Regions from separate parts of the Homo sapiens genome. Here region 1 is linked to region 2. The links come from fine-mapping of genetic effects on gene expression. A gene starts in region 2. The other region holds a variant in brackets. All regions are shown on one strand. Distances are between the middles of the regions.

Region 1 (4,393 bases), 420 kb after region 2:
TTGAGAGGAGGAGAGGGGAGAATAAATAGAACTTTGTCTTACAACTTGGACACCAGCTCAGCCACAGTAGGATAGGGGAGCAGGCAGAGTTGTGAGGCTCACATTCCAAGCCCCAGAACCTGGACAACATTTCTAGAAATATACTGGGCCAGAAGGGAACTTTGCTGCCTTGAAGAGAAGGGCCCTGTCCTAGCAGGATTAATCATCTGCTGACTAAGGAGCCCTTGAGCCCTGATTAATCAGCAGTGGTAGCTGGCCAGTACACATCATGGGCCTTGCGTGAGATTCTGTGACACATTGATTTTAGTTGTGACCCAGCATATTCCTAGCTGTGGTGTCTATCCAGAAAGACTCCCTCTGCTTGAGAAAAGGAGAGGGAAAAGCAAAGGGGACTTTGTTTTGCAGCTTAGGTGTGAGCTTGGCCACAGCTTGGTGGGAGAGCACCAAGCAGGCTCTTTGGGTCCCTGATTCTAGGCCTTGGCGCTTGGACAGCATTTATGGACCTTCCCTGGGCCAGAGGGTAGCTCACTGCCCTGAAGGTTGAGTCCCAGGCCTGGAAGCATTCACCAAAAACCGAATGAAGAGCCCTTGGCCCTTGAATGAACATCAGTGTTATCCTGGAAGTATTCCCTGTGGGCCTGGGGAAGTGGTGGCCAGCAGGGGAGACTGCTCTGTCTGTAGAAAGAGGAGAGAACAGTGGGAAGGACTTTGTCTTGTGGTTTGGGTGCCAGATGAGCCATAGTAGAATACAGAATAGAATATATTTATGTGGTTTTCAACTCCAGACCCTGGTTCTCTGGACCTGCCTGGGGAATATGGGAACTTGCTGCCCTAAAGGGAAGGACAGAAGCCTCGCCAGCTTCGCCACTTGCTTACTGTAGAGACCTAAGGCCTTGAGAAAACATAGGCGGTGGCCAGATGTGGTTATACTCGGCCTTGGGTGAGACCAGTGCTATGCTGGCTTCAGGTTTGACCCAGGGCAGTCTCAGTGGTGGTGACTACAGCGGGGGTTGTGTCACTCCGCCCCCAGCTGCAGACAGCTCAGCACAAGGAGAGACTTTGTTTCGGGGAAAGTAAAGGAAGAGAACAAAAGTCTCTGGCTGGTAATCCAGATAATACTTTGAGATCATATCCAAGACCAGCAAGCTGGTACATAATACAAGTTTTCAAGAACCACAGTGTTACTGGGCTTGGGGTGTTCTCTAGCACAGATAAGGCTTCAGTAACTAAAAACTTAGATCACAACACCCAAGTTCCTTCGAATATCTGGAAAACCTTCCCATGGAGGATAGATACAAATGAGCCCACACGATGAAGACTACAATAAATACCTAACTCTGCAATGCCCAGAAATTGGGGGATATCTACAAGCATCAAGAGCAACCAGTAAAATCTGACCGCACTACAAAAGGTATATAAGGCATCAGGAACCAATCCCATGGAGGGAGATGTGCCCCCTAAGAAGACCCTTGGCTGCAATCTTTGACATTGGAACTGTCTGCATTCTTCATCTGGGAACTTCGATACTTAAAGCTGCCACATGATGTAAACTATGCTTAGTTATTTAACAACCAGTTTTACTCACCATGGATCAAGACAGAGTAGCTTTGCATACTTATGAAATTATCCATTTTGATAAGAGTTGTTTACCTTTTTTCTTTCCTTTTAGTTGATAAATGCTTACTGGATCTCTAGAGGACTACAAATGACTGAGGCTGGTTGGTCCGGAATTGTAGATTGAACATTTTAATTTTTCTTAGCATTTTAGCACTTTGGTTTTTTCCCCATTGTCTTCTCACATAAGAATTGAACAGCTAAACTCTAGTTTTTTTCAATATGCAGTTTTTCATGTAGTGCCCTGTTGATTTTGTTTTCATATGAACCAAACACCTAATCTTCTCTAAATTGATTCATTAAGCAGTTCACAAAATTAAAATGATTTAATTTCTGAATCCACACTGGGCAAGGATAGGTAGGAAGAAAAATTCCTCCTTGTATACTGAGTTATCTTTATTAATAACGATCCTACAACTAAAATTTGAAGTGAAATTTACCAAGTTTTGCTATTTTATTTTTTTAGATTTTTTATTTTTATTTTTTTTATTATACTTTAAGTTCTAGGGTACATGTGCACAATGTGCATGTTTGTTACATATGTATACATGTGCCATGTTGGTGTGCTGCACCCATTAACTCGGTATTTACATCAGGTGTATCTCCTAATGCTATCCCTCCCCACTCCTCCCACCCCACAACAGGCCCCAGTGTGTGATGTTCCCCTTCCTGTGTCCAAGGGTTCTCATTGTTCGATTCCCACCTATGAGTGAGAA[C/T]ATGCCATTGTGATAGTTTGCTGAGAATGATGGTTTCCAGCTTCATCCATGTCCCTACAAAGGACATGAACTCATCCTTTTTTATGGCTGCATAGTATTCCATGGTGTATATGTGCCACATTTTCTTAATCCAGTCTATCATTGATGGACATTTGGGTTGGTTCCAAATCTTTGCTACTGTGAATAGTGCTGCAATAAATATATGTGTGCATGTGTCTTTATAGCAGCATGATTTATAATCCTTTGGGTATATGCCCAGTAATGGGATGGTTGGGTCAAATGGTATTTCTAGTTCTAGATCCCTGAGGAATTGCCACACTGACTTCCACAATGGTTGAACTAGTTTACAGTCCCACCAACAGTGTAAAAGCGTTCCTATTTTTCCACATCCTCTCCAGCACCTGTTGTTTCCTGACTTTTTAATGATCACCATTCTAACTGGTGTGAAGTGGTATCTCACTGTGGTTTTGATTTGCATTTCTCTGATGGCCAGTGATGATGAGCATTTTTTCATGTGTCTTTTGTTTGCATAAATGTCTTCTTTTGAGAAGTGTCTGTTCATATCCTTCACCCACTTGTTGATGGGGTTGTTTGTTTTTTTCTTGTACATTTGTTTAAGTTCTTTGTAGATTCTGGATATTAGCCCTTTGTCAGATGGGTAGATTGCAAAAATTTTCTCCCATTCTGTAGGTTGCCTGTTCACTCTGATGGTAGTTTCTTTTGCTGTGCAGAAGCTCTTTAGTTTAATTAGATCCCATTTGTCAATTCTGGCTTTTGCTGCCATTGCTTTTGGTGTTTTAGACATGAAGTCCTTGCCCATGCCTATGTCCTGAATGGCATTGCCTAGGTTTTCTTCTAGGGTTTTTATGGTTTTAGGTCTAACATTTAACTCTTTAATCCATCTTGAATTGATTTTTGTATAAGGTGTAAGGAAGGGATCCAGTTTCAGCTTTCTATATATGGCTAGCCAGTTTTCCCTGCACCATTTATTAAATGGGGAATCCTTTCCCCATTTCTTGTTTTTCTCAGGTTTGTCAAGGATCAGATAGTTGTAGATGTGTGGTATTATTTCTGAGGGCTCTGTTCTTTTCCATCGGTCTATATCTCTGTTTTGATACCAGTACCATACTGTTTTGGTTACTGTAGCCTTGTAGTATAGTTTGAAGTCAGGTAGTGTGATGCCTCCAGCTTTGTTCTTTTGGCTTAGGATTGTCTTGGCAATGCGGGCTCTTTTTTGGTTCCATATGAACTTTAAAGTAGTTTTTTCCAATTCTGTGAAGAAAGTCATTGGTAGCTTGATGGGGATGGCATTGAATGTATAAATTACCTTGGGCAGTATGGCCATTTTCACAATATTGATTCTTCCTATCCATGAGCATGGAATATTCTTCCATTTGTTTGTGTCCTTTTTTATTTCATTGAGCAGTGGTTTGTAGTTCTCCTTGAAGAGGTCCTTCACATCCCTTGTAAGTTGGATTCCTATTTTATTCTCTTTGAAGCATTTGTGAATGGGAGTTCACTCATGATTTGGCTCTCTGTTTGTCTGTTATTGGTGTATAAGAATGCTTGTGATTTTTGCACATTGACTTTGTATCCTGAGACTTTGCTGAAGCTGCTTATCAGCTTCAGGAGATTTTGGGCTGAGACAATGGGGTTTTCTAGATATACAATCATGTCATATGCAAACAGGGACAATTTGACTTCCTCTTTTCCTAATTGAATGCCCTTTATTTCTTTCTCCTGCCTGATTGCCCTGGCCAGAACTTCCAACACTATGTTGAATAGGAGTGGTGAGAGAGGGCATCCCTGTCTTGTCCCAGTTTTCAAAGGGAATGCTTCCAGTTTTTGCCCATTCAGTATGGTACTGGATATAGGTTTGTCATAAACAGCTCTTATTATTTTGAGATACCTTCCATCAATACCTAATTCATTGAGAGTTTTTAGCATGAAGGGCTGTTGAATTTTGTCAAAGGCCTTTTCTGCATCTATTGAGATAATCATGTGGTTTTTGTCTTTGGTTCTGTTTATATGCTGGATTATGTTTATTGATTTGCATATGTTGA
Region 2 (4,322 bases):
AGGAAACTGGAAAGATGTTGCAGAGAGAAAAGGTTTTGCTCCCTCCTTCTGGCCGGCTTACTGGGTAGGGTGTTCCTGCAGCTTGTGCAGCTCTCTCCAGTGGCTGGCTTCTGTGTTGCAGTTTCAATAGCACCAGGCCACTTCCCCTGGCACCCTCCCTCTTGTGGTTTTTGTAGTAGAGTTCCTCTGCTGAAACATTTCCCTATGAACATCCTTCTCAGGCACTCTAGCAGGCCAATTCCAGAGGGTGGGTTTCCAGCAAGTTCTAGAATGCAGGGTTCCAGTAATTTCCAGAGGTTGGAGTTTCAGCAAGTTCTGCCTGTAAGGCAATACAGAATATTTCCTGCCATAGAGTGACTCTCCACTGGCTGTGTTCTCTCTAAGAAGGTCTGGATCTCAGCTAAGGGAAGAGAATGCTTTATCTCAGTTCCAGGGGTAGTGGCTATCATATCTACTATTATATACCTGCTACATCTGTAGTATTTAGAGTTCTCTTTACTTCTTGCTAGCTAAGCCCTCATTATTCCAATTTCCTGTTATCATTAATAATTGAACTGACTGATACAGAGGTGATCATGGAATAACTGCCACATAAATTTTGAAAGAGTACACAAATACATTTTCACACGAATTTTATAACAATTCCTTGAAGTAGACATGGCAAATACTATTTATTATTCACATTTTACAGGTGAGGAATGAGGTTCACAGGCTGTGAGTGGACCAAATTCATAGTCATTTTTATCATTTGTAAAATGAGAATAACAATTGAACCTATCTCCTAGGGTCATTGTAAAGATTAAATGAGGTAAGCACGTAAAAGTGCTGAGGACATGATAATGGCTTGTTAAGTGTTAACTGTTACATACAGGTCAAACATCCCTAATCTAAAAATCCAAAATTCAAAATGCTCCAAAATCCAAAATTTTTGAGTGTCAACATGATGCCACAAATGGAAAATTCCACATCTGACCTCAAGTGGAGGATCACAGTCAAAAGGCAGTCAAGACTTTGTTTCGTGCACAAAGTTATTGAAAATATTATATAAAATTATCTTCAGTCTATGTGTATAAGGTATAAATGGAACAAATGAAATTCAAATTTAGACTTGGGTCCTATAGCTGAAATATCTCATTATGTATATGCAAATATTCCAAAATCTGAAAAAGTCCAAAATCCAAAACATTTCTGGTCCCAAGCACTTTGGATAAAGAATACTCAACCTGTACATTATACTTCAACTATAAAATTATTCAGTCTGGTATTTTGCTAAACTACTTGCAATGAGTTGTCTAGGTCTCATGTATCTTTTTATATCATTTTGTTGTATCAATTATTCATATTTGTTTTGTCAAGTTCCATGGCAATAACAACCAAAGATAAGCCTATCACTTCACAATTACCTCCTGTGGTTATTGCTTTCTGAGGAAAAAAAAAAATTACAAGTGAGAGCTAATCAACCTAGGCTAAGTTTATGTCAACTTAGAAATTCAAGGCCCACTGTGGTCAGTGGCAGAGCTGAGTGAGGAAACCCAATTCCCAAGAATATAGCCTTAAATTTAGATGAACCTTCAAATTGTAATATTTCAATGTAAATAATACATGCAACTTAAAATGCATTTCTGGTCTCATCAGGTTTAGGTGAGGGAGTGGGGTGGGGACAGGATGTTACGGGAAAGTAGGGAAGAAAAGGACCCGGTTTACTAATCTGTGTCAATTATCATACCAACCCCTTTCATCATTGAAGATTTCAGCAACCAAATACTGAAGGTCAGTGCGGTACCAAGGGTTGGGGTTATATATTAAACAGTGTAGTCCCGAACCTGTAGAAAACTATTGATACCTTGCATAGAGATAGGCAATAATACATAAAGATTATTGAAAACTCTTGGTTAAAGTACTTTAGTAGTATTTGAAAACACAATAGGAAATTACCCTGTAGGAATGGGATGTGTTAGATCCCAGCCGTAGATACGGCACGTGTTAAACTTTCAGAAGGGGAAACATGCTTCACGGCTGATTGCAAATTTCTCATGCAATATTTGTCAGAATCCAGGAGCATTTTAAGTGGTCTTCTAACAATATAAGCCCCGCACTTTGGACTGGTAAGTACAACATTTTCATTTGGTAAATAATAATAATTTTAAACAGAAACAAGTCACGACCAAATAGCGACTCATCCTCCCCCAGGCATAAAACCCTTTAGCCAGCTAGCCGCCTTTCCACGGGGTAGAGTATAAACAGCAAACAAAACCGCTTTGGTACCGGGAGGAAAAAGGGGAAAGGAGTCGAGTCAAAACACCGTCTCTTAAGTTCCTCAAGATCAACCCAGGGGGAAGGGTCCTCCACCGGAAAGGGCCGGATTGCCTTCACAGGAAGGGAAAGTCACTCCGGAGCTCGCAGACGCGAATGCCACCACAGAGTTCCAAGGCGGCTGCCAGAGCGTCGGCCGTCAGTTAGCACCTCCCCCTCCTTCCCAGAGCTGTAGCTAAGCAACCATCGGGCTCCGGGAGAGTCTAGGCTCAGCTGCTGTATTAGTGCCTCTAGCGGGGAACTATGAGCGCTGCAAAACCCTATCACCATTTTTACCCTCCCCTCTCTCCACCCCCTTTGCCCCCGCCCACCTCTTCGCCACTTCGGCTCCTCCCTCTTCTCGCTCCGTCTATCTCTCTCTCTCTCTCTCTCTCCGCCCCCCCACCCCCCGCGTCTCTCTCTCTCTCTCTCTCTCTCTCTCTCTCTCTCTCTCTCTCTTTTTCCTCTCTCTCTCTCTCTCTTCTCTCTCTCTCTCTCACTCACTCACTCTCTCTCTCCCTCTCCCTCTCCTCTCCTTCCTCCTCCGCCTCCTCAGCTCTTGGGCTAGAATATCTATGGGTCGAAACGTGATGCGATGAATTCGAGAGAGAGCGAAACTAGGACGAGGAGTGCGGCGGAAGCGGCGGGACTCCCGGGCATGGGGGCTTCACCACAATAGAGGCAGCGCCCCCACCCGCCCCCGCCAGCCCCTCCGGAGCGAAGCCCCCAAACCCCCTCGGGAAAAGGATGGCGGCAGCACCTACCCAGATCGAAGCCGGTGGGTAGCTGTGTCGGGGGGTGGGGGGGTGCTAAGGGAATGGGGGCTTAGCGCGAAGGCTGTCAGTTTCTTTTGAAAAAGCTTCTATTTCTCTTCTCTACCTCCCTCTGAACCTCTTTTCCCCCCTCTTCCCCAGAGCTGTATTACCTGATCGCTAGGTTCTTGCAGTCTGGACCCTGCAACAAATCCGCTCAGGTAAGGGGAAGAAAGAGATCTGGGAGTCGTGGTGAATGGTCCCAGTGGGGAAATCGAGGCAGCGGGACGAGCAGTTCCGTTGAGGGTGAGGGAAAGGCCGGCCTTGACTAGTCAAACGGTCAGCGGCTGGGCTTTAAGTGTGGAGGGAGGAATGGGTTGATGGCCCGAGCTGCTCCTCATATCTGTGTTTCCCTTTTGCTCAGGTGCTAGTGCAGGAGCTCGAGGAGCATCAGGTACGGAGCCCCTTCGGGAAGGGTGGGGAGGGTTGAGGTGAGACTGGAGGAAGGGGAGGGCAAGTCAGGGGCGGAAGACGGGCTGGGATAGAGGCTTCGATCTGGGTACCCGTAGCTGTTGTCACCGGGGTGAATTGGCTTCTTCCCTCAAAAGGGGCAGACAACGCTGGGGTCTTAACTCGTCCCCGCTTTATGCTTGTGGGAGGCAGTTTTTCAGGATTTCCTTCTCGACCCCCCTTCCCCCCCCCCCCCATATACTTGTCTAGCTCTGAGCCAATAGCTATCAGGCCGAGAGAAATAAAGACGGTAAAGTGTTGAGGACTGGGACACAGGTTGGGTCCAGTTGATGGGGAGCGGAGGCTTTTCCTTCATCATTTGCCTCCGCTTCCCCCTTTCTTTTCGTCCGGCCCCCAGCTGATTCCGCGCCGCTTAGATTGGGAGGGGAAAGAGCACCGAAGAAGCTTCGAGGATCTGGTGAGTAAAGTTTTCATTTCAACTTAACCTAACTCTTTCACCACTCCCTCCCCACCTTGTACCCCCAACCCGCCCCCCACCTCTCAGCCGACGAGGTTCTAGAGCTCGGTGCAGAGCCAAAGAACGACTGCCCCTTCCCCCATCCCTGCTAGTCGGAAAAAGGGTACCTTGCCCTCCCCTTGGCCCTGCTTGTTTCCACCCGAAAACTTTGAAGAATGTGAGTTGATTATCAGAGGTGCCGTGTTGTGGATTATGAATATGTTACAAACATTGGGGAAGGCCCATTGTAGGCGGAAAAGGGAGAGAAACCAAGGGGTTATCTTGGGGCACGTACTAAGGTCTGACGCTGG

Which allele goes with the higher level. Alleles are on the strand shown, and positions count from the first base shown. SD is a standard deviation of normalised expression in the study named.
As copies of T replace C in region 1, the expression in sigmoid colon of the gene that starts at base 2,634 in region 2 goes up (small effect, 0.30 SD a copy in GTEx).

Evidence for each region. PIP is the estimated chance that this variant, and not a neighbour inherited with it, causes the effect.
Region 1: its variant is the best candidate, but not a certain one, in a credible set for the expression of BRWD3 in sigmoid colon (GTEx, PIP 0.60).

Annotation. Positions count from the first base shown.
Region 1 is chrX:80,384,265-80,388,657 of GRCh38, reverse strand. It overlaps a transcript of TENT5D not described here. Among named protein-coding and RNA genes, the nearest start is that of TENT5D, 34 kb to the left of the region's middle. The variant C/T (reference allele first, on the strand shown) is at 2,331.
Region 2 is chrX:80,808,189-80,812,510 of GRCh38, reverse strand. It overlaps BRWD3 (bromodomain and WD repeat domain containing 3), which reads left to right and starts at 2,634. Exons shown (of 41, transcript NM_153252.5): 1 at 2,634-3,070; 2 at 3,207-3,265; 3 at 3,469-3,498; 4 at 3,913-3,972. The coding sequence starts at 3,040. It overlaps LOC124905202 (a long non-coding RNA gene), which reads right to left and starts at 3,703. Exons shown (of 2, transcript XR_007068278.1): 1 at 3,218-3,703; 2 at 1-400. RefSeq lists an enhancer at 2,320-2,399.